Regions from separate parts of the Homo sapiens genome. Here regions 2, 3 and 4 are each linked to region 1. The links come from fine-mapping of genetic effects on gene expression. A gene starts in region 1. Each other region holds a variant in brackets. All regions are shown on one strand. Distances are from middle to middle. Region 1 holds the start of CRTAC1 (cartilage acidic protein 1). Region 2 overlaps CRTAC1 (cartilage acidic protein 1). Region 3 holds the start of MIR3085 (microRNA 3085). Region 4 overlaps CRTAC1 (cartilage acidic protein 1).

What was found. PIP is the estimated chance that this variant, and not a neighbour inherited with it, causes the effect.
Region 2: its variant is the best candidate, but not a certain one, in a credible set for the expression of CRTAC1 in sun-exposed skin (GTEx, PIP 0.55).
Region 3: its variant is the best candidate, but not a certain one, in a credible set for the expression of CRTAC1 in unexposed skin (GTEx, PIP 0.78).
Region 4: its variant is the best candidate, but not a certain one, in a credible set for the expression of CRTAC1 in tibial artery (GTEx, PIP 0.53).

The regions. Positions count from the first base shown.
Region 1 is chr10:98,028,638-98,033,783 of GRCh38, forward strand. CRTAC1 (cartilage acidic protein 1) reads right to left here and starts at 1,984. Exons shown (of 15, transcript NM_018058.7): 1 at 1,812-1,984. The coding sequence starts at 1,835.
Region 2 is chr10:97,965,411-97,970,556 of GRCh38, forward strand. The region is part of intron 2 of CRTAC1 (cartilage acidic protein 1); the gene reads right to left. Among named protein-coding and RNA genes, the nearest start is that of CRTAC1, 63 kb to the right of the region's middle. The variant G/A (reference allele first, on the strand shown) is at 2,529.
Region 3 is chr10:97,873,002-97,878,147 of GRCh38, forward strand. All of the region lies in intron 14 of CRTAC1 (cartilage acidic protein 1), which reads right to left. MIR3085 (microRNA 3085) reads right to left here and starts at 2,896; the gene lies at 2,812-2,896. RefSeq lists an enhancer at 2,823-3,323. The variant T/C (reference allele first, on the strand shown) is at 3,019.
Region 4 is chr10:97,880,223-97,885,368 of GRCh38, forward strand. CRTAC1 (cartilage acidic protein 1) reads right to left here. Exons shown (of 15, transcript NM_018058.7): 12 at 3,984-4,129; 13 at 2,564-2,606; 14 at 27-170. Among named protein-coding and RNA genes, the nearest start is that of MIR3085, 6.9 kb to the left of the region's middle. RefSeq lists an enhancer at 1,782-2,981 and a silencer at 2,270-2,564. The variant T/G (reference allele first, on the strand shown) is at 2,414.

The DNA.
Region 1 (5,146 bases):
GGTGCAGCCCAGATGGAGAAGGGAAGAAAGAGCAACAAGCAGGTATTTCGCTGCACAAATCCCCAGTGGAGAGAAGGTCTTGGGAAATGCAGCAGAAAAATGTTGACTGCAGCAGACAACGATGGAGCTGGGGGTTGGGATATAGATTGATAGCACCCATAAAATATCTCCAGGCTGAAGCAGGTACCCTAGGAGTTTGAACATCCACCTACATTCAGGGATGGGATAAGGTGGAGGATTCAGGCTCAAATGAGCAGCCACAGAGCAGGTTCCCCAGACTCCCTACACACCGTTTCGACCTTTTCCAGAGTCCATTAGTACCCACCGGAAATGGAAATGTTCTAATTGTGGTCCTCTGTGCCATCATCAAGACCCTCAACTCCCTTCATTACCTCTTAAATTGACTTTAGGACCTACTGCCAGAAGGATGTTCTTAACCAAGTCAGAGAGAGAGAGAGAACATTTTCTCAAGAACCATGCTGGAACAGCCACCATGTTCCCACTTTTCCAGCCTCCACCTCTCCCCCATGGCTGAGGGTGAGGTACTCTGTGACTCTCAATGAGCTCTAATTCAGTCTTGGACATCTCCAGCCCCAAGTCGTCTGGGTTCCAAATCTCCGTCAATCGCTTATCTCTTCCCACATGAGTTCTCCCCTGACTCAAGAAAACACTATAGAACTGTCCCCTGTCCTGGGACCCTCTTCCCTTCTTTTCCACTTGGCTTCACGTGGAAAGTCCTGCACCCATCCCAGAAGACACCTCAAGTGCAACTCAAGAATGTGTCCTGTCAGGAGAACGGAAGCATCTCCTGGGATGTGCAGAAGCCACACTGGGTGCACCCACCAGCAGCAGCAGCGGCGGCGGCGGCGGCGGCGGCGGCGGCGGCGGCGGCAGCAGCAGCAATATTCATTAGTCATTCCTGGAGGAAGCCCCCCCAGCTCTCAACCCTAGGAGAATTTCCCCGCCACTCTGGGAGGCTTCCATCCAGGCTGGGATGACTTTGGATTCTTGAGTTGCTTTCTGCAGAAGCGGGACTAACCAGGGCTCCCAACTACTGTACTGCAAAGAAGCGCGCTGCATTGCTGGGCATGCCCCCAAGCCCGGCCTGGCTGCCCCATCAAAGCCTCCAAGTGCCCCCACGGGGTCGAGGAGGACTCAGGGTTCCCCTGGAATGCCTGAAGCCGGCTTGCCTCAGGCAGCCTGAAGGGAAGACCACACCTCGTCCAGCATAAGGCGGCTAGCAGCTACGCCGCGCGCGGGGCTGGCTCCCGGAGCTCTCTGCCACCCAGCGCTGTGCCCGGGAACTCGGCTTCCCAGGGGAGGAAGAGCCAGCCCGCGGGGCTCTTCCCCAGCCTGGAAGCGTAGGCACTCGGCCGAGGCCAGTGGCTTCCCAGGCCCGGGTCTCAGCCTGGCTGACTGGGAGACTCTCCCGATAGCCCGGCACATCCCTCCTCACCCGCTCCGCCCCCTCCAGGCCCCAGAGGCCCCCTCCCCTGACAGCTGACCTCCAGTGCGCCCCCAACACTTTCTCTGCCAGCTGCTGGCTGTCGCCCCCACACATCAGCTCCCACCTCTCCGCCACCTCCAACCCGGCCGCCGCCTCACCCCCAGCCCGCGGGGGAGGCTCCGCGCGCCAATCGAGTCCAGCGCCTCCCAGCAAGTTAGGAGCGAAGCCGCCGCCTTCGCGATCCCAGTCTTCCCGGGTTCCCGGGCGGCGTCCCCGCCACCCTTGCGGGCGGATCCGGGGGGGCGCGCAGAGCTGGAGAAACTTTCTCCGCCTTAGGGTGGGGGGCACCGGTGCAGATACTCACGCCGGGGTCAGCGCTCGGAGCCATCCTCCCGCTCTCGGCCCCGCCGCCTAGGGGCGTGGGAAGCGGGCGCTCGCTGCCGCCTCTGCCGCCGGCGCCGCCGCCTGCTTGCTCCCAGCCCCGGTCCCGGGCTGGCCTCGAGCCTCCCGCCCCGACGCCGCGCGCTCGCTTTATACAACTCCACTCGAGCGCGCCCGGTCTTATGTAAAGGCTGGCGGAGGCCCGCAGCCAATGGCGCGGCAGCTGGAGCCGGGGGCCCGGGGTGGGGGGCGCCGGCGCGGCCAATCGCGGCCCCGAGAGCCCGGAGAGCCGGGCGTGGGGAGGGAGCGCCTCCCCGCGCTGATTTAGGAGCCGGGATTGCGGTGGCAGCAGCCGGCAGCCAGGCTGGCCCGGCGCGGCGCGGCGGCCACTGGGGTGGGCGGCGGCGAAGGCGGCGGCGAGGGCGGGCGCCCCCCGCGCCCCGCCACTGCGTCGCGTAACCTTCAGGCGGCAGCGAGGCCTGGCGAGGAGGGGAGAGGGCGCCTGGCTGGGCGCTGGGGGCCCCAGGCCGGAGGGAAGCGAGGGTCCCTCGGGAGGCAGCGCAGGGAAGGAACGCGAAGGGGGAGGGGAGGGCGGCGAGCCCCAGGACCCCGCGGCCACCCCTGCGCGCAGGACCGAGGGTGGAGGCGGGAGCGGCTGCACTGCCTTCCCATTTCCCCCCAGGATAGCGATCTGGCGTCGCCGGGCCGGGCCAAAGCGGCCGAGCGAGCCGCGCTGATGGCGAGATTTCGACTACGGAGCTAGAGCCGAGCCGATCTTTATCCAGCCTGGGGACGTGTCCGAGCACCTCCCGGGGACTGCTCAGTATGGAGAGCAGGGCTCCGCGACGGCCCCCGCAGGCGGGGAGCGGGCGAGCGCAGCTCGGAGATCAGGCGCGCAGAGGCCCAGGCGGCTGCGGGCAGCGCCGCTTCTACCCCACCCCGTCCCCACCAGCAGTGCCCCCACCCCATCCCACCTAGTCCCTACCCCAGCAGTGGCCGAGTCGGGCCTGGCCCACCCGCTCCTGCCGCCTGCGTCCTACTAGCCTCCCTCACCGCTTTGATCACAGGTACTGCCCGCCTCTCCTCGCCCCCAACCCGCTGCCTTGGTGGTGGTGGGGGGATGGTTTCTGCCTCTCTGGACCAGGGGAATGGGGGTGCTAAGCGCCAGAAAAACACACTTGATCAGCAATGCTCAAAATACCCCTGTTCAGGCAGGAAACTGGCCTTGGTGGGTCACACTCTGAAGGCAAATCCTTTATTTTACGCCTAGAATAGAGCCTGGCACATAGTAGGCGCTCAGTGTTTATTGAATGAATTCTGAGCTTCCATGAGTGAGGTCTTTGGGTTTCTGAAAGCCAGGTAAAGGGGCCACAGAAGAGAAAGACTTGGGAATCCACCATCGGAGAGGGAAGGAGCTAGGACTGTTTTCCCATCCGTTGACGCTTTTGTGACCATCACCCACTAGTCTGGCTTCTGGGCCCTTGACTCTTAGAATGATTTGAATGTGTTCTTTTATAGAGGGCCACACATCCAGCCTCTGGCCCCTGTTATCCACAGATTTTGAGCAGAACTACCAGGACCTAGTCTGGGCTCTGTTTTCAGGTCTCTGTGATCTTCCTCTGAAAAGAAATAGCTAGGCACAGACAAACTTTCTGGCTTTTTGAGCCCCCATCAAGCCTGTAAGGTTGTGGGCCCCTTTGAAAATCTGGCAAAAATTACTGAATCATTTTTCTAGAAAAATATACAAACACACACATTTACACACACACACACACACACACACACACACACACACACACACACCTTGAGTATACTTTCAGGATCATTAGGAACCCTGAGTCTCTTGGGGCTCGGTCCAATGTCAACCTGTTTCTTCAGGGGTCTAGGACAGTAGTTTATAATCACCCTCCTTTTGGGGATCACAGACCCTTTAGAACCTTTCAAGAATCTCATAAATGTTATGGATCTGTTGCTTATAAAAATGCTCACTCACATACACACATGTTGACATGCAACTTTAGGAGGGTTCGTGGATCATTAAAACTTAATCTAGGGCCCTGATTAAGAACCTTCATCTATCGGCAAATAGACTCTGCCCCCAAGGCCATATCTGATCCCCAGCTCTCTGCATAAGGAGTCCAGTTGGCTCTGCACCCTGCTGGAACATGCCACCACCTTGTTCTGAGGGCATCTGAGTCATCTGGCCAAGGCTCTGGCACCTGAGAGACTGTCTCCACACTTTCTCTGCATCTTGGTCCCCGCCACCCTCTTAATGTGGAAATAAGTTGCAGGTTGTCATATTATGTCTGATCTATGAGCATTCCTTAGCCAGAAACTCCAACTCAGGGAGACAGCAAGTGACTGGTAATTAACCAGTTTCACTCAATCCCAAACATCTGAGCACACCTTTCTTGGTTTTTGTTCTCACCTCTCTCTTCTCCGGTGAAGCTGTGCACAGCAGCCCCAGCTGTAGCGCCTCACCTCACCCAGACCCGACAGATTTAGTAACCAGCACGGTAATTATCAGCATTAGCCAACCAGATGTGAATAGGTGCTCTGTGCAAAATAACTCTGTAATAATCTCACACTTTCCTGCAGCTAGCCAGGTAAGGTTACAACAGACCAAAGGTGCTAGGGAAGGACAGAAAAATGCAGGAAATGATGGAGATGTTCCAGCCAGGAAGTGCTCCAGGGAATACAATCTGGCTTCAGCACTTGAACTTGTGAGGGTTTAGCCCAGTGGGCCAGGCAGTCCTGGTTGGAAAATTTCTCATTTCTCTGATGTCCTCGATGTCCATTTGCTCAGTTCATGTCAGTGTCTGCTCAGAGCTCCAGCCCTTCCCCACCCCCAATCCCGTGAGAGACCTCTTGTCCTCCCACATTGCCCAAACACAGCTTTCTTGAGGCACATGCACACGGTTATAGACTGAATTGTGCCTCTCCGGACCAAATTCACATAGTGAAGCCCTAACCCTTAGTGTGACTGCATTTGGAGATAAGGCCTTTAAAGGGGCAATTAAGGCAAAATGAGATCATAAGGGTGGACCCTAATTCAATAGGACTAGTGTCCTCGTAAGAAGAGAGAGAGATACCAGAGATCTCCCATTTCTCTCTGTGCATCCTCAGGAGAAAGCCTGCCTGAGTAACAGGAGGAGGCCATCTGCAAGCCAGGAGCAGGGCCTCTGCAGAAACCAGACCTGCCAGCACCTTGATCTGGGACTTCCAGGCTCCAGAACTGTGAGAACATTAACTTCTGTGGTTAAGCTCCACGTCTGTGGTATTGGCTATGGCAGTCTGAGCTGACTAATACACACATTT
Region 2 (5,146 bases), 63 kb before region 1:
TGGATTGAACCCCCTTTTTCATTTCCACCCATGAAATCTCCCCTTTCTTTTGTAGCTGCCAGATGTACTTGAATACTCCCAATGTTGGAACACTTACTACCGCCAGAGGCAACCCTTTGCTTTTTCTTTCTTTCTTTCTTCTTTTTTGGTAAGCTCCTACTTTGTGGAAAGTTATTCTCTATACTGATTGTAATGGAGTTGTTGTTTTTTTTTTTAAACTGGATAGTTGAGTTGGAGATACTCATGTGAGGTGGCTGCTCCCTAAAGTAAAGTCATTTTAGCCTCTATGGGCTATATTAATAGAGACATGTGTAATGAACTGAAGGAAGTGACAGGCCTGCTTTTCCCTGGGCTGTGCAGCCATGCTCAGAGTGTCATGTTCAATTCTGGGCTCCTCAGTGAACTGGGGCAGGCAGTTGTCGAACTGAGCTGTGACTGAAGAAGGGTGGTCTAGTCAGTGAGAGAAGCTGAAAGCAGGATTCAGAGGTTCTGATGGAGGTGGAGATACCTGACTTGGAAAGGAGATGACAGATGGGGCAGGGGAGAGGTGATTGTGATGGCTGCCACTTGGGAGCAGCCTGGAGGGACATAAGGCTGGCCTGTTCTAGGTCATTTCTGAGTTGACTCAGGCCAAGGATAGAGCCAAGGCCACTACATAGGTAGGGAAAGCTGATTTTCTTTCTTTTTTGAGACAGTCTCACTCCATCACCCAGGCTTGAGTGCAGTGGCATGATCTCAGCTCACTGCAACCTCCACCTCCTGGGTTCAAGCAATTCTCATGCCTCAGCCTCCTGAGTAGCCACTACAGGCATGTGCCACTATACGTGGCTAATTACGGGCATGCGCCACTCCACTACACCAGCTAATTTTTGTATTTTTAGTACAGACCGGGTTTTGCCATGTTGGCCAGGCTGGTCTTGAACACCTGGCCTCAAGTGGTCTGCCCCCCTCAGCCTCCCACAGTGCTGGGATTAGAGGCATGAGCCACTGTGTCCAGTCTGATTTTCTTTTTTAAGTGCACATTTTAGTTTAGGATAGTCTTAAGTTTACAGAAAAATTGCAAGGGTAGTATAGTGAGTTCCCACACATGCCCTGCCCAGTTTCCCCTATCATTAACATCCTACATTAGTATGTTACATGGGTCACAATTACTGAACCAGTATCAATATATGATTATTTACTAATATCCACACTTCATTCAGATTTCTTTAGTTTTCCCCTAATGTCCCTTTTCTGTTCCAGGATCCCACCTAGGATACCACGTTACATTTAATTGTCATAGCTCTTTAGCTCCTCTTCGCCATGACAGTTTCTCACTTTCCTTGGTCTTGATGACCTGGACAGCTTTGAGGGGTACTGGTCAGGTATTTTTGCAGAATGTCCCTCAGTGGGATTTGTCTGATGTTTTTCTCAGGGTTAGACTGGGGTTAGTGGGTTTTTGGGAGGAAGACCACAGAAGCACCGTGCCATTTTCATCTCATCATAACCAGGGCACACACTCTCAACATGACTTGTCCCTGCTGATGTTGACCTTGATCACCTGGCTGAAGCTGTGTTTGCTGTGTTTCTCCATTGTAAAGTCACCCCCCCCCCCCCGACATCCTACATGCTTCAGAAGGAAGTCACTATGCGGCACCTACGCAGGAGTAGGGAGTTTTGCTTCAGCTCCTCTGGGGTGGTGTATCGACATCAATTATTTGGAATTCTTCTATCTGGGAGATTTGTCTATTCTCCCTCATTTATTTATTTATACAATCATTTATTTATATCAGTATAGCTTCATTGATATTTATTTGTACTTTAGGTTATAATCCAATACAACTTTATTTATGTTGTTGCTCAAATTGCTGCAGCTTTAGCCATTGGGAGCTCTTTCAGTTAGCTCCTCTGTCTCTTTGATTCATCCCATCATGGCGGCTTTTCAAGCACCTCCTTACTGTCTGCACTACCAGATGCTCCAGGCTCACTTTGTATATTTCTTGTCCCATTCCTAGAATCAGCCATTTCTCCAAGGAACCTTGTTTCCTTTTGCTGGAGAATGGTATTAGAAACCAAGATCTGGGGGCTAGGTGTGCTTGTTGATACTGGAGTGTGAGTTGCTTCTAGGGCCTCTGAGATGACAGATCAAGGAAATATATGTGTGTATACTAACCCATGTATAGACATTTATCTATAAATATTTCTATATGTAACCATCTGTATCTATATTATGTTCACACTGTCTCCAACTCTAATCCATTACCACATGAATCATCCTATCTTAGGGGAGACTGATTTTTAAACAACATTAAAAAAAAACATTCTGCAAAGTTGGATCTGGTTGCTTCTGGAAGTAGTAAGTGCTCCCTCACTGAGTGTATTAAGCAGATTGGGAAGAAATAAGGAAAGGAGGGGTCTGATGGGTAGAATTGGAAAAATTCCATTTAACTATACTCAAGGTCCCTTTCAACCCAGTGATTGTTGAAACAGAAGTGCCATATAAGGAAAGGTACATCCAAGGTACACATGGCTTCCCGGGGGCATTCTTT[G/A]TCTTCCGTCTTTCAGGAGTCTGAGATCTGGGCAAGGAGAAAGAGCTGGCATTTAGACAAATAAAGGATACACCATTCAACAGGTAGGAAATTTATGGGATTTGCAATCCAAAGAAGAGAAAACAGGCTTAAAAAATAAATGAAGCTCAAAAAGGTTTTAAATTCACAGATGACAGAGCCAGAATGGATTATGAAAGGGGAACGATGCTGGCTTGTGGGAAGGACACTTGCCAAGGTGTTGACATCTGAGGAAGTAATTCTGCTGCTCCCTTAAGGTCCTGGGTGTGCACAGAGGAGCAATTCTTTTTGTTTTTGTTTTTTTGAGGCAGAGTCTCGCTCTGTCGCTTAGGCTGGAGTGCAGTGGCACTATTTTGGCTCACTGCAACCTCCACCTCCCAGGTTCAAGCGATTCTCCTGCCTCAGCCACCCAAGTAGCTGGGATTTCAGGCACGTGCCACCATGCCTGGCTAATTTTTTTTGTATCTTTAGTAGAGATGGGGTTTCACCGTGTTAGCCAGGATGGTCTCAATCTCCTGACCTTGTGATCTGCCCGCCTCCCAAAGTGCTGGGATTACAGGTGTGAGCCACCACGCCCAGCTTGCAATTCTTTATATTTTACTGCAGCAGCCCAGGATCTAGTCGGGGTAAATGGGGCAGGCCAGAGTCTGAGAAGGAAATAAGGAATTGACTGTCCTGAACACACAGCAAGGCTGAATTCCCCAGGAAGGCAGTGCCGCCCCAGCTTTAGGACATGTTAGAAATAGGATGGCCACCCTACTGCAGGAGAAATGATCTTTCTCAACCAGCAGCTCTTCCTTCTTCCTGAAGCCTTGTCTGAAAAGACCATGAATCACCTCTTGCGGAAGGAATAGAGATGATGGGACAAAGAGAGAATTCCTACACTAGCGGGTGCTCACTAAAAATGCAGACCGTGGGTCCTATCCCCAAAGATTTTGAGCCAGTACATCTGGAGATGAGCTCAGAGATTTATTTTTAAAACCATATCTCTAGGTGATGCTGATACTGGAATTTCTCAGTCACATTTGGAGCTCTGCTGGTGGTCTTAATACCAGAGTTTGCCCAGGACAGTCTCAGTTGGTTTGCTTTCCTTTCCCCCCCATGTCAAAAGTGCCCTCATTTGGGTGACAAATTATATGGTCACTCCCTTCTTAACACTGATATGTCTTCAAGCAGCAGCAGAAGTCACATGTTGATAGGCACCTTTTTTGGCCAACGATGCCTGTACCATCCCAGCTCCAATCCAAGAGTGTATTCACCCTTGAAAGTGAGGCTTCTCAACTGGGGGAGGAGGAGCTTCTAGAATTCCTGGGGTCAGGGGACTTGGGAGCCAGGGAAGAGTAGATTGGCAAAGCTCTCAGGTGTTTTGATGCTCCATCCCCTCCCAGCCCCTTGACAATCACTACTGTAAAGAAGGAGCCAGCCTGTGGGGACAGGGCAGCCACTCCAGCCCGAGCCTTCCTTTGGGCCCCTTGCCCTTCCTTTCTCTTTCTCCTCCTCTCTTTCTCCCAAGTCTGCATTTTTCCCTGTCAATATCAAAGGGCTGCCAATGTGCTTTGCTTGTTGATGATGACTCTTGAGATTAAAAGTTAGCTGATCTTTGGACAAATGTAACCATGGAAATCTGAGACATTAACCATTGCCTGCTGGGGACCTCAGATAGGAAGCTCTTATAATCCCTCCACGCTCAGGAGTGATGAGATAGACCATGGACGACCCCACAGAGCCATTGATCAGAAACACAGATCTGATCATGCCTTATCTCCCCACCCAGACCTACTCCCAGCTTGGTAACCCTCAAAATGCCAAAACCACAGCAAAGGGTGCAAATGGTTGCTGACGCTGGAGGCAGTAGGCTTAGTCATTGGGTATCTCCTCTCCCATCCATTTTCACTCCTTGGTGACCTCACACAGTATCAGGGCTTTAAATACCATCTACCCGCTGACAACTCTCAAATTTATATCTCCACCCCAGACCTCTTCCCTGAACTCCAGACTCATATATCCAACTGCCTACTCAACATTGCTCTTGAATGTTTAATAGATATTTCAAACTTAACTTATCAAAAACTGAGCTCCCAGTAGCTCTTCTAGACCTACTCCTGCTGTCTTTCCTTTCCCAACTTCTAGCTTCCAGGTGCTCAGGCCAAAAGCTCCGAGTCTAACTGGATTCCTCTCCCATCCCATACCCAATTCCTATTGGCAAATCCTGTCGGCTCTACCTTACAATATATTAATACACAGAACATGGTTATTTCTCACACTCTGCTAATCTCTGGTTTAAGCCCATCATTTTTCATTTGGATTACTGCAAGAACTTCCTGACAGCTCTCAGCTTCCCCCTTTCCTTCCTTCAGTCTATTCTCAACATGAAAATCAGAGCATCCTTTTAAAGTGCAAGTCGCATCATGTCACCCCTTGGCTCAAAATCCTTCTCCTAACGGCTTTCTTCTCACTCAGAGAAAGAAGCCAGACTGAGCAACCTGTCCTCAGGGCCAGCGTGGTCTGCTGCTGTGGCTGCACTCAGTTCTTATTTGTCACTCCTCTCTGCTTCCTCACTCTGCTCCAGCAGAGAAGGCTACCGTGTTCCTGCCTCAGGC
Region 3 (5,146 bases), 160 kb before region 1:
AGATTTTATGACAATATCTGCATTTCATCAGTCAGGCACTGCAGCAAGTACCTTATAGGCTCGAGGAAGCCTCACAACAACTCTATGAGGATTTTATCACTGCCTCTATTTTGTGGATGAAGAAACTGAGGCTCAGAGATGAAACAACTTCTTAAGGCCACTTCCAAATGCCTGGGTGGAGGGTCTGGATTTCAAGTCCATTTGATCCCAGAGTTTCAGTGTGAAGGGAAAATTTTAAGGACAGTTGAAAGGAAGGGAGAGGGGAGGGCCATAGGATTTGTGCACAGCTCTAAGAACGAACATGGCATTTTGGCACATGTGAGACACCTTCTGCAGTGGGAGGAGGCACTGAGACTTTCCAATGACTGGGTGACACGAGGGCAGCCCCAGGCTTCCTTCTCCCTCTTTCTTCTGTGTCAGCCTTCGAGGGCTCTAAACCTTGAGTCTGGGGATCTGAACTGCAGAGAGGGTGTATGTTTGGCTCACTTTCCTTCCTTTGGCCTAAACTTGTCCTTCTGCCATGGTCTCCATAAGCAGTTGGGGAAAGAGGATGTGCTTTTTTCCTGTTCCAGGAGCTCTACAGCCAGGTCTGGGGTGGAGGGAGGGAAGTTAGCCCTTAGATTTGTGGGGAGGGTGCATTAAATGACTCTAGGGGATGAGATCCTTCCTGGCTGCTCTGGGGCTGGCCATGAAGAAGGAGAACCAGCTAGCTTTAGGGGAATTATTCTGGCCCCAGACTGCTTTCCTGCTGGCAGGCAGGCTGAGGGCATGAGGTTCTGGGCGGGACGTTCTGGGAACGGGTGATACAGATTCTCCATCTGCCGCACCCTTCTCCTGACCCTGCCTCCCTCCTCACAGCTGAACAGGCTCCTCTCTGCACTCGGGACCCCCATTCAGATCTGTATTTAATCCCAGCTGAGTTCTAAGGACCAAGTATGGTTCTTCTGTTACTTGATGGGCACGTATCCTGACTCAGTTTCCATGTCAGCAAAGTGGGAAGGATAAGCCCTGCCTCTCTTATTCCTGATCTTGTTCATACACTTGGGCTTCTGGAATACCTGGAGCTTTCTGGAGAAGGGTGCTGGGAGCAGCCTGGAGCTGAGCTCTTTTGAGGAGCAGCCGGCAACCCGGCAGGAAAAAGGACCAGACGGGGGTGCAGATGCCTTGGGAAAGTTGCAGCTCCTTTTTGGGCCTTGGTTTCCACGTCTGAAAAGGAGGGAAGAGGACTAGATGACTTCTCAGGTGTTCCTGGATTTAAAGCTCTAGGATTCTGTGATTGTTGAGGGCCAAATTCCCAGGCCAGTTCACTAGCTCCTGGTGACCTCTGCTCTGTATGGCCCAGTCCATGCCATGCCCGCCTAGCTCAGTTCACTTTGTTTTATGACTATTCTTTCTGGGAATGGCACTGCATGAGAATTCAGCAGAACATAGCACAGCCCAGGCCCCAGGAAGGTTGGCTCTGCACCTTATGGCCATTTGCCATCTTTTTCTGGTGAATCTGTCAGTTCTCCAGAGGTGGCCCCGTCCTGCCCATCTCTCCCACCACAGGTGTCCTGGGTGGCAGCAGGGTGTACCGGGAAGCACAGGAGCTTTGGCACTGAACGGGCCCGGGGCTCCATCCTGAACGTGGCTACTTAATAATAGTATCTCTAATTTGTTGGGGGCTTTCTATGTGCCAGGCACCATGTCAAGTCTAATATAATAACTCTGTGAGGTATTATCCCCATCTTGCAGATGGGAAAACTGAGGTTCAAAGACACCTTACCTACTTTAAGTCTTTGCTCAATGCCTCTTTCTCAGGGAGCCCCCCTGCCCCCGCCGCTATTTAAAATGGCATTCCACCTCCATCCGGGCCTTCCCGGATGGCCTTGATGTTACTCTTCTCCAGCCCTCCATAGCACGTATCATGCTCCAACATGCTACAGACTTTCCTTATTCTGGGTATTGTTTAGTGCCTGCCACGTCTTGCTAGGGCAGGGACCTTTGCCAGTGTTGTTCACAGATGTATATCCCAAGCCACTAGAACAACATCCAGCACACAGTAGGCGTTCAGTCACTGTACATCACATGAACAACTGGTTAAATAACTTCCCCAGTGTCAGTTACCTAGAGATCGCACAGCATAAGGCTTAAGAACCCAGGCTTTGGAGCTAGTCATGAGGTTGAATTACAGCTCTTGCCACTTTAGCTAGCTATGTGACTTTGTGTAATTTACTGTTTCTGAGTCTCAGTTTCTCTGGTAATAAAATAGACTCATAACATTTATATTCTGGGATGGGTGTGAGTATTCATGGAGACATGGATGTAAAGTTCTTGGCATATGGCAGGCATTGCATAAATGTTAGCTGCTTTCCTGGAGGATGTTTTTCTTCTCTCTTGCGTCTCATTTTCCCTCTGGTGGCCTATTTTTTGACCACTTCACTGTCAACAGTAGTTCCTTAGAGGACAAGCCACCGTGGGAGAGGCTGGCGTCATCTGTGGTGTTAACCAGCCCATGTTCTCTTGCCTTCCTTCCAGGATATGCCTGTTGCTACAGACACAACAGCAACTTCTGGCATGTTCCTGGCCCCTGTGGCTGGGGTTCTGGCCTCAGAGAAGACTGGCCCTGGGCACAGGGAGGCAGGGAGGGGCTCGGTTTGCCTTCTGGGCTGGAAGTCTGGGTGGAGGTTCAGCCTGGAATCTGTTGGAAGAACTTGGCTGGCTCCCTGCAAAAATGAAGTGCTCATCTTCCTGTCTACACGGGGCTCTTGGAGTCTGGAGCGGAGTTCCTGCTTCGGCCGAGGTCCAGTGGCACTGGCCTGGGTGTGATACCCAGACCCTGGGAGGGGGCCATAGCAGCCAGAGTGACACATAATCAAACTCCTGGCCCTCAGAATGGCACCTTCCCAGAGTAGGGTTGGCAACCGTGTAGATGCTTGAAGAGGCCTAGTGGATGGTTTACCATTCTGCCTCAGTGAAGGTTGGCTGAGCCCGCCTGGCGAGGGGACTCTCGACATTAGCAAGCACTGCCACCTCTTC[T/C]TGCAGACTTGAACGTGACCGTGGGGAGGACTATTTCAGATCACTAGGCCTCCAGGGGCTCCATTTTTCCCCTCCCAATCCTGCTCTTGATCCTGGGCAGCATGAGTGACTGTGGCTTTTGCTTAAACCAATTCACCATCCCAAATGAAGAAGGGAGTGGTAGTTGAGAGTGCCAGCTGACAGCCAGACTCCTGGGATCCAGTCCTGCCTTCGTCTGTCTGGGCTGTATGACCCTGCACAAACCATTTAGCTTATCTGTAAACGTGGGATAATTACAATACCTTCCTCTTGAGATTATTATGAGGATTAAACGAGTTGATTATTGTAAAGAGTTTAGATTCAACCCAGACACGCCAAGCCCACTAAATGTAAGCTATTATTGTCATTTTAAGGGGTATGTGCCTGTGAAGAGGGAGTATTCTTGAGCAGAATAAAAATGGTATTATTCTTATTATTTCTTTTTTGTTGAAAAATGGGGAGCATTTTTGTGGCAGCACTGGCCCACCTTCCCACTGGAGTGAGTTGTGGCTGCCTGGTGCAGGCAGGTGGGGCACCAGCTCCTCCATTTGCATAATCCCTTCCGGGTCCATTTCATTACTTGACTGCCCCTAAAGGCATTTGTTATTTTTGTTACAAATTAAAGTGTAGCATAAGGCAACAAAGATGTCAGGAGCCTAGGTGGGGCTAAGGGACAGGGAAAAGACAGACTTATCTGTGTGCAGGAGGGGACGGAACGGTTTGGGCTCCCACGGGTCTCAGAGAAAGGGATTAGAAGAAAGAGGGGAATGGGAATGCTGAGCCTGGGTAGCTTGGGGGTGGCTTTGCACCCGCAAATCTGTGGCTGGTATAGCACAGACCAGTAGATGCATTGAATTTGAGGCACCTGTTCAAAAAGCCTGTACTGCTAGCTCAATGAGGAGGCTCTGTTTTTTTTTTTTTTTTTTTTTTTTTTTGGTAAGGGGGTAGGTAATGTTGAGTGGGTTCACTATCCACCTGTCCTCTGTATCTTTCAGCCTTGTATCTCTTGCAACACAAGCATCTTGGGGGCAGGGGACTTGTCCACCTCATTAGAGGGTCTCTATCACATTCCTCATGGGAGGAACCTAGTGCTTGTCATACAGGATATTCTCAATAAATGCTTGCTGAATGAATATGTAAATGAATGAATGCAGAGAGCTTGCTTTCTGGTATAGCAACCTGAGAATTCAGCTCAACTTTTTAGAAAGCCCCTTGGTGTCCCACTCCCATCCCATGCACTTGGCTCCTCTATCTGGCTGGAGGGAAGGCAGCGTAGGGGTGGCAACAATGTTACCTTCACTTACCATTACATACCTAGAGCGTAGCTCAGTACCTGGCACATAATAGGTGCTCAACAAATATTACTTTCACTTACCATTGTATGCCTAGAGCCTAGCTCAGTACTGGGCACACAGTAGGGGCTCAACAAATATTGCTTTCACTTACCATTGTATGCCTAGAGCCTAGCTCAGTACCTGCACATAGTAGTAGGGGATCAACACATATTACTTTTACTTACCATTGTTACCTTCATTTACCATTGTACGCCTAGAGCCTAACCAAATATTTGGCACATTGTAGGTGCTCAATCAGTATCTGTTGAACTCATGAATGAATCAAATGGAAGCCTTATCCTGGAGTCTGAGTGCTGCAGTGGTGCTCTTATCAGCTGTGGGAACTTAGAACTCCTCTTTGCAACTCACTGGACCCCACTCACCCAACAGGATCACATGACACAGATATACCCTGTTATATAAAACTCATTGTGAAGGCATTCATGGTTGTCACTTATAAGGCATCATCTGAAGTCTGCTGTCACCCTGAACCCCCTGATGTCCTTGGCAGGCCATCTCTGTAGTTGTCTTGTCCCTTATTTCTTGTGCTGTTGTGTATGGACAGTCAATGGGCTCTGTTATCTTGTCATTTACCACTGCATTTGGAACCATTCCTCCATGGGTTTTGGGTTTTACTTATCTCACTATCTTAGATCCACTTTGTTCATTTTTTAAAAGGCAGCAGCTTCCAGAAGGACTAGGGAATAGTCTGAACAGTGACAGAGCTGCCTGTTACCCTCTGACAAGATGGTGTGGTGGGAAAGGGCTCCAGCCCT
Region 4 (5,146 bases), 150 kb before region 1:
TGGCCTATGGCTGGGGCCCCACTCACCCACGCAGGCTGTGCCATCCTCGTTGGGCTCGTAGCCCCGACTGCACTTCTTGTTGGTCCGGCACCTGTAGCTTCCATAGGTGTTGACACATACGGGCTTGTCTCGAGGGCACACGAATGGGAACTGGATGCATTCATTGGTGTCTGCAAGGCGAGGGGAACCACTCACCATGAAGGTGTGGGGCAGCAAGTACCAGCCCAGGCTCTGCCTGCCTATACACTGTCTGGCTTTGGGAATGTGCCTTCCTCGCAGAGCCTCAGTTTCCCTGCTTCAGTTCCCTTGGCTGGCTCCTCCTGTACTTGGTCTCTACATGCTGGGGGCAGGGGGTGGGCACTCAGGCTTGGTCCTGGGTCCTCTCTTCTGTCTACTACAATCGTTCTAGGTGATCTCTTCATGCATGGATGATTCCGAAAGTTCTATCTCCAGTCACAACCTCTCCCCGTGGCTCCAGACTCACGAATACAATAACCCATGACCTACTTGACAGCTCCACTTGGATGTCTAAGATGCACCTCATGCTTAATATGTCCAAAATAGAACTCCAGATTCTGCCCTGCCCTGCCCATATTCTGGCCCTCTGTTCTGTCTTCTCTAGCTCAATCAACACCCCCATCATCAATCAGCTGCTCAAGGGGAAATCAGAGCGACCCCTGATTTCTCCGTCTTTCTTGCCCCCTGTGCAATTTCACAGCAGAGCCTGTCCACTCTGCCCCGCAGTCCACCAGTCCACCTCTCTCTGTCACCTCTTTCTCATTCCTCTGCCACCACCCAATTTCCTGCCATCGTGACCTCTTGCCTGGATTTCTGCAGCTGCCTCCTCACAGAATACCTGGCTTCCCCTCTTCCCTCCAATCCACTCTGCAATTCAGCAGCTGGAGGGAGCCTTTAAAAATGTGAATCACATCATGTCACTCCCCAGTTTAGCTTCTAAGGCTCCTAAGAGCAAAATTCAGACTCCCTACAGGGGCCTCATGGACTCTCCATCATCTCCAGGCCATACTGGCATCCCTCCTGCTCCTTCAACACACAAAGCCTTTGTCCTGTCTCCCGCTTTTCACTCCTGCCCTTCCCTCAACTCTTTCTGGGCCTAGATCCTTCTCATCCTTCAGGTCTCAGCTCAGAGTCTTCCCCCCGAGGCCCTCCCTGACCACTCTCTCTGGAACAGTCTCCAGGGAGCACCTTGCTCAGAGGGTTCTGAAATCATCTTGTCCAGGTGTGTGGTCATGCGTTCAGGGTCTGTCTCCCTCCACTAGAATGGATGCCCCTCTTGTGGAGGCGCGGGGGTGGCACTTGGCCTACATCCCCAGCTCCCAGCATGACACTTGCTGTGTACGAGGCACATAACTGCCTGTTGGGCGATGAAAAGGAAGAGGAGGCTGATCTCAAAGGGTCCTTCCTGCAGGCAGAGAAGACTCTGGAATTTCTATGCACCTGCACTATGTGTTTGGAGTGGGGCTGGGTGGGCATGTGGAGAGTGTAGGGGAGTCATTTCCTCCTCCAGCCACCCTTGGCACCACTGCTCCTCCACCTCCCCACCTGTGCTCCTTTGTTCAGACAGTGCCCCCCACCAGAACCATGTCTCCCCTCTCTGTGACTGCCGAACTGCTCCTCATTCCTCAGGGCCCAGCTTGGACCTCACTTTCTCTAGGGCACCTTCTAGGACCCTCCCTAGGCTGGTTTAGGGCCCCTGCTTTGTCATCTCCAAGCCCCTGCCCTCCCCCATCTGGGCCCTGATCACACTGTGTGGTCGACAGCTGTTTACTTTTGTGGCTCTCCATTGGTTTTCAGCTCCTGAGAGTGGTATCTGTCTTGTTTACTCCTGTATCTCAGTAGCAAAGGGTTAATGAGCAGCTGCAGAGTAGACTTGGGAAGAATGCTGGATGAGGGTTCAAGGAAGGAGGGATCCTTGGCCTGACCCCTCCTTGCTGGTCACTGGGATGGAAAGTGTTGGGGGTGAAGGTCTCCTGGACACTGAACTTCTAGGCTGCCCCTTCCCATTCCAGGCTCTTGGGGACTTTCAGAAGGTTCTTGGACCGTCAAGGAGCTGCCATCCTGGTAGTGCTGCAGCTACCTGCCTGCCCCAGTACTGCACCAGGCTGCAGTCTCCGTTCCACACTGTGACCACACTCCATACACTATTTTGCCCCAATGCCCTTGGCAATGCACACCCTTGCCTGCCAGCCCCCTTGCTTGCTGCTCCACATGGACTTGCTGGCCATGGCATGTGGCTATTCCCCCTGTGCCAGGTTGGTGGTGTGTCTCCTTCCCATCTGCAGTTTCTCGGTACTCATGGCAGGAAAACACTGCCAGTTTCCAGAACCGCAGTGATTCAGCCTGTGGGTCACTAATATCACTCCCACCCTGGTGAGTCATGTGGTGGTTGTCT[T/G]GGCATCTGGAGTCCCAGGACAAACAACACCCTCCCCTGTCCTCCTTTCTGCCCCTTGCTTGCACCCTGGACCTTGGCATGAGTCAGGCGGGCATTCCCCAGGGAGATTCCGGCCTCTACCCCATGCCCTGGTGACTGAAGGCAACTCACCCATGCAATGGCCATTTTCCTGCTGGGAGAATCCTTGGCCACACTGTAAGGTGGGCAGAAGCAGAGACATGAGTGAGTTGAGAAGGTCCCATCCCAGGTTCCCTCCTAGTCACAGCCACAGAGTAGTTGTCACCCTAACCACAGTGTGAGGCATGCTCTGAGCTCTGGGCCTGGGGGGAGCCCCCTCCCTTGTAAGACCCTTCCTTTGCGCTGAGAACAGAAGGCTGGCGGGAAGGCCATGAATGGATACGGTTCAGACTCTTGCTCATTTCCCTGTGCAAAGGATCCACACGAGCTGGGACGTCTAACAGAACCTGTCCCTTCTGTAGCATCACCCTGTGACTGAGGCTGGGTCTGTCAGGGCAAAGTGTAATGAGGGCTGGGAGATGCTTTTTGAGGTGTCTGCTCACTGCCCACATTCACTTCTCCAAGAACCTCTCCCTCACACGGGTGGGTGCCTGCAGCCATGCTTGTGTCCCACCTCTCTGGCCAGGGCTGATGGGTGGACATCCTAGCAGGAGGGAAGACTCAAGGCTTTGCAGCAAGAATTTGAACAAATTGACTCAGAGACTTAAGAGTTGGGAGCCGGCCCTGCCAGGCTGTGGAGGCTCTACCATGCCCATATGGGGGTCTCAGAGACAGCAGCCTGGGGTGGGGCAGGGGACTAAAAACGTAACACACATGACACAAAATGTCAATCAACCGTACTGATGAATGAGGTGGGTGGATGGGGATTGTTGGGGAAGAGGGGCCCCTCTCCTCCCAAAGCCAGTGCACTGACAAAGGTCCTTGAGCTCCTAGGGCTGAGGCCATCAAGCTGCCAGTTTCTACTCATCCTGAGCTTCCCTGAGTTTTATGAGTGATCCTCCTTATAAGCCCCCTTCATTTGTGTCAGTTTCAGTGGGTTCCTGTTAATCGCCACCAAGTGAACCCCATCAGAGTTGGAACGACACTGCTGAGATGGGTCCAGAGCTGCTCCTCAAAGAGCCTCCAGAAAACCTGGTGCAGGCTCTGAGCCCCACCCTAGGGCAATAGGAGGTCTTGTCAGAGACTCAGAAAGAACCAGGAGGGCAGCAACAGACCTGGGGTCATTTTAAAACTTTGCTCACAACTGGCTGTACAGCCTTGGTGGGCCTTGGTGGATTTCCTCTCTTAACCTCAGTTTTCTTCCTCTGTAAAATGGGTGCAAAAATGCTTGCCCTGCCAATACACCAGGGATTCTTTGAGAAGCAGAAGAGATGTGGGTGTGATAGTGTTGTGCAAACTACAAATGGAGGGATCAGTATGAAGCCTTCGCTTTGCCAAGATTTCCATCACTCTAGAGGCTGAGTTTGCAGATTCCTGGGAACCCAGCTTCAGCCCATGGGGTTGTGGGTGGTGCCCGCTTTTCTGGCTATGAGGCCCAGATGCCTTTGCCCACCTCCAGTGGGGCTGGGTCCTGAAGTGTGTCCTCATCCCGGGGGTAGAGGATCTCCAGCACTGAGTTCATCTCCCCGCTGGCCACGTTCCGGCTCACCATCTTGCCATCTGGCCACGTCACCTCCACACTGCTGGCTTCATCCTTCCCTGAGGGGCAGAAGGAGAGAGCATCAGCAGCAGAGGAGAGCAGGAGGCTCTCAGCGGAAGCATCAGCATCAACTAATTCATCCATTGAATAAAAGCATGAATTGAGCACTGTTCTAAGTGCTAGGGAAATGGTGAACAAGACAGATTTGAGGTCCCTCCTCTCTGGAGCAATGCTGTCCAATAGACCTGTCTGTCTGCAAGGACAGAAATGTCCTGCATCTGTGCTGTCCAGTACAGTAGCCACTGGTAACATGTGGCTGTTGAGCACTTGAAGTGGGACTCACGTGATTGAAGAGGTGAATTTTCAATTTTATTTAACTCTAATTAATTTAAATTTAATGGCCACACATGGCTGGTGGCTGCCATGTTGGATAGTGCAGCTCTTGAACTCACGTTCTAGCAGACAGGCCAAGCATCAGGAGGCTGTACTGGAGGATACAGTAAGGCCTGTGATAAGCAGGTTGTCTTTGGAGTCTGGCATTCAAATCATGGCTCTACCCCTTACCTGGTATGTTGGAAAGAGCATGGTGGGAAGTGGGTGGGAGACCTGGGGACAAATCCCAGCTGTGCAGCTAACTGGCTTTGTTATCCCAGGAATGCTTCTTGTGTTTCTATTTATTGAGCTCTGCTAAGGGCCAGGCTCTCTCTTGTCACTGGGGATGCCCCTGTTCTCATGGAGTTCCCAGTCCAGTTGGGGAGACAAGCAAACAGATGAACAAATAAATAATGCCAGATATTGACAAAAGTAGGGCAAGTAGGTAAGGAGGAGCTGGGGGTTGCCAGGGCCTTGTCTAGTCAGGTGGTCAGGGACAGCCTCTTAGGGAGGCGGCATTTGCACTGAGCTCTACATAATAACTTGGAAAAAGAGCTGGGCATGGTGGCTCATGCCTGGAATCCCAGCTACTCAGGAGGATGAGGCAGAAGTATTGGCTGAGCCCAGGACTTCAAGGCCAGCCTGGGCAACATAGTGAGACCCTGTTTCTGAAAAAAATAAAAACAAACAAAAAACAACTTAGA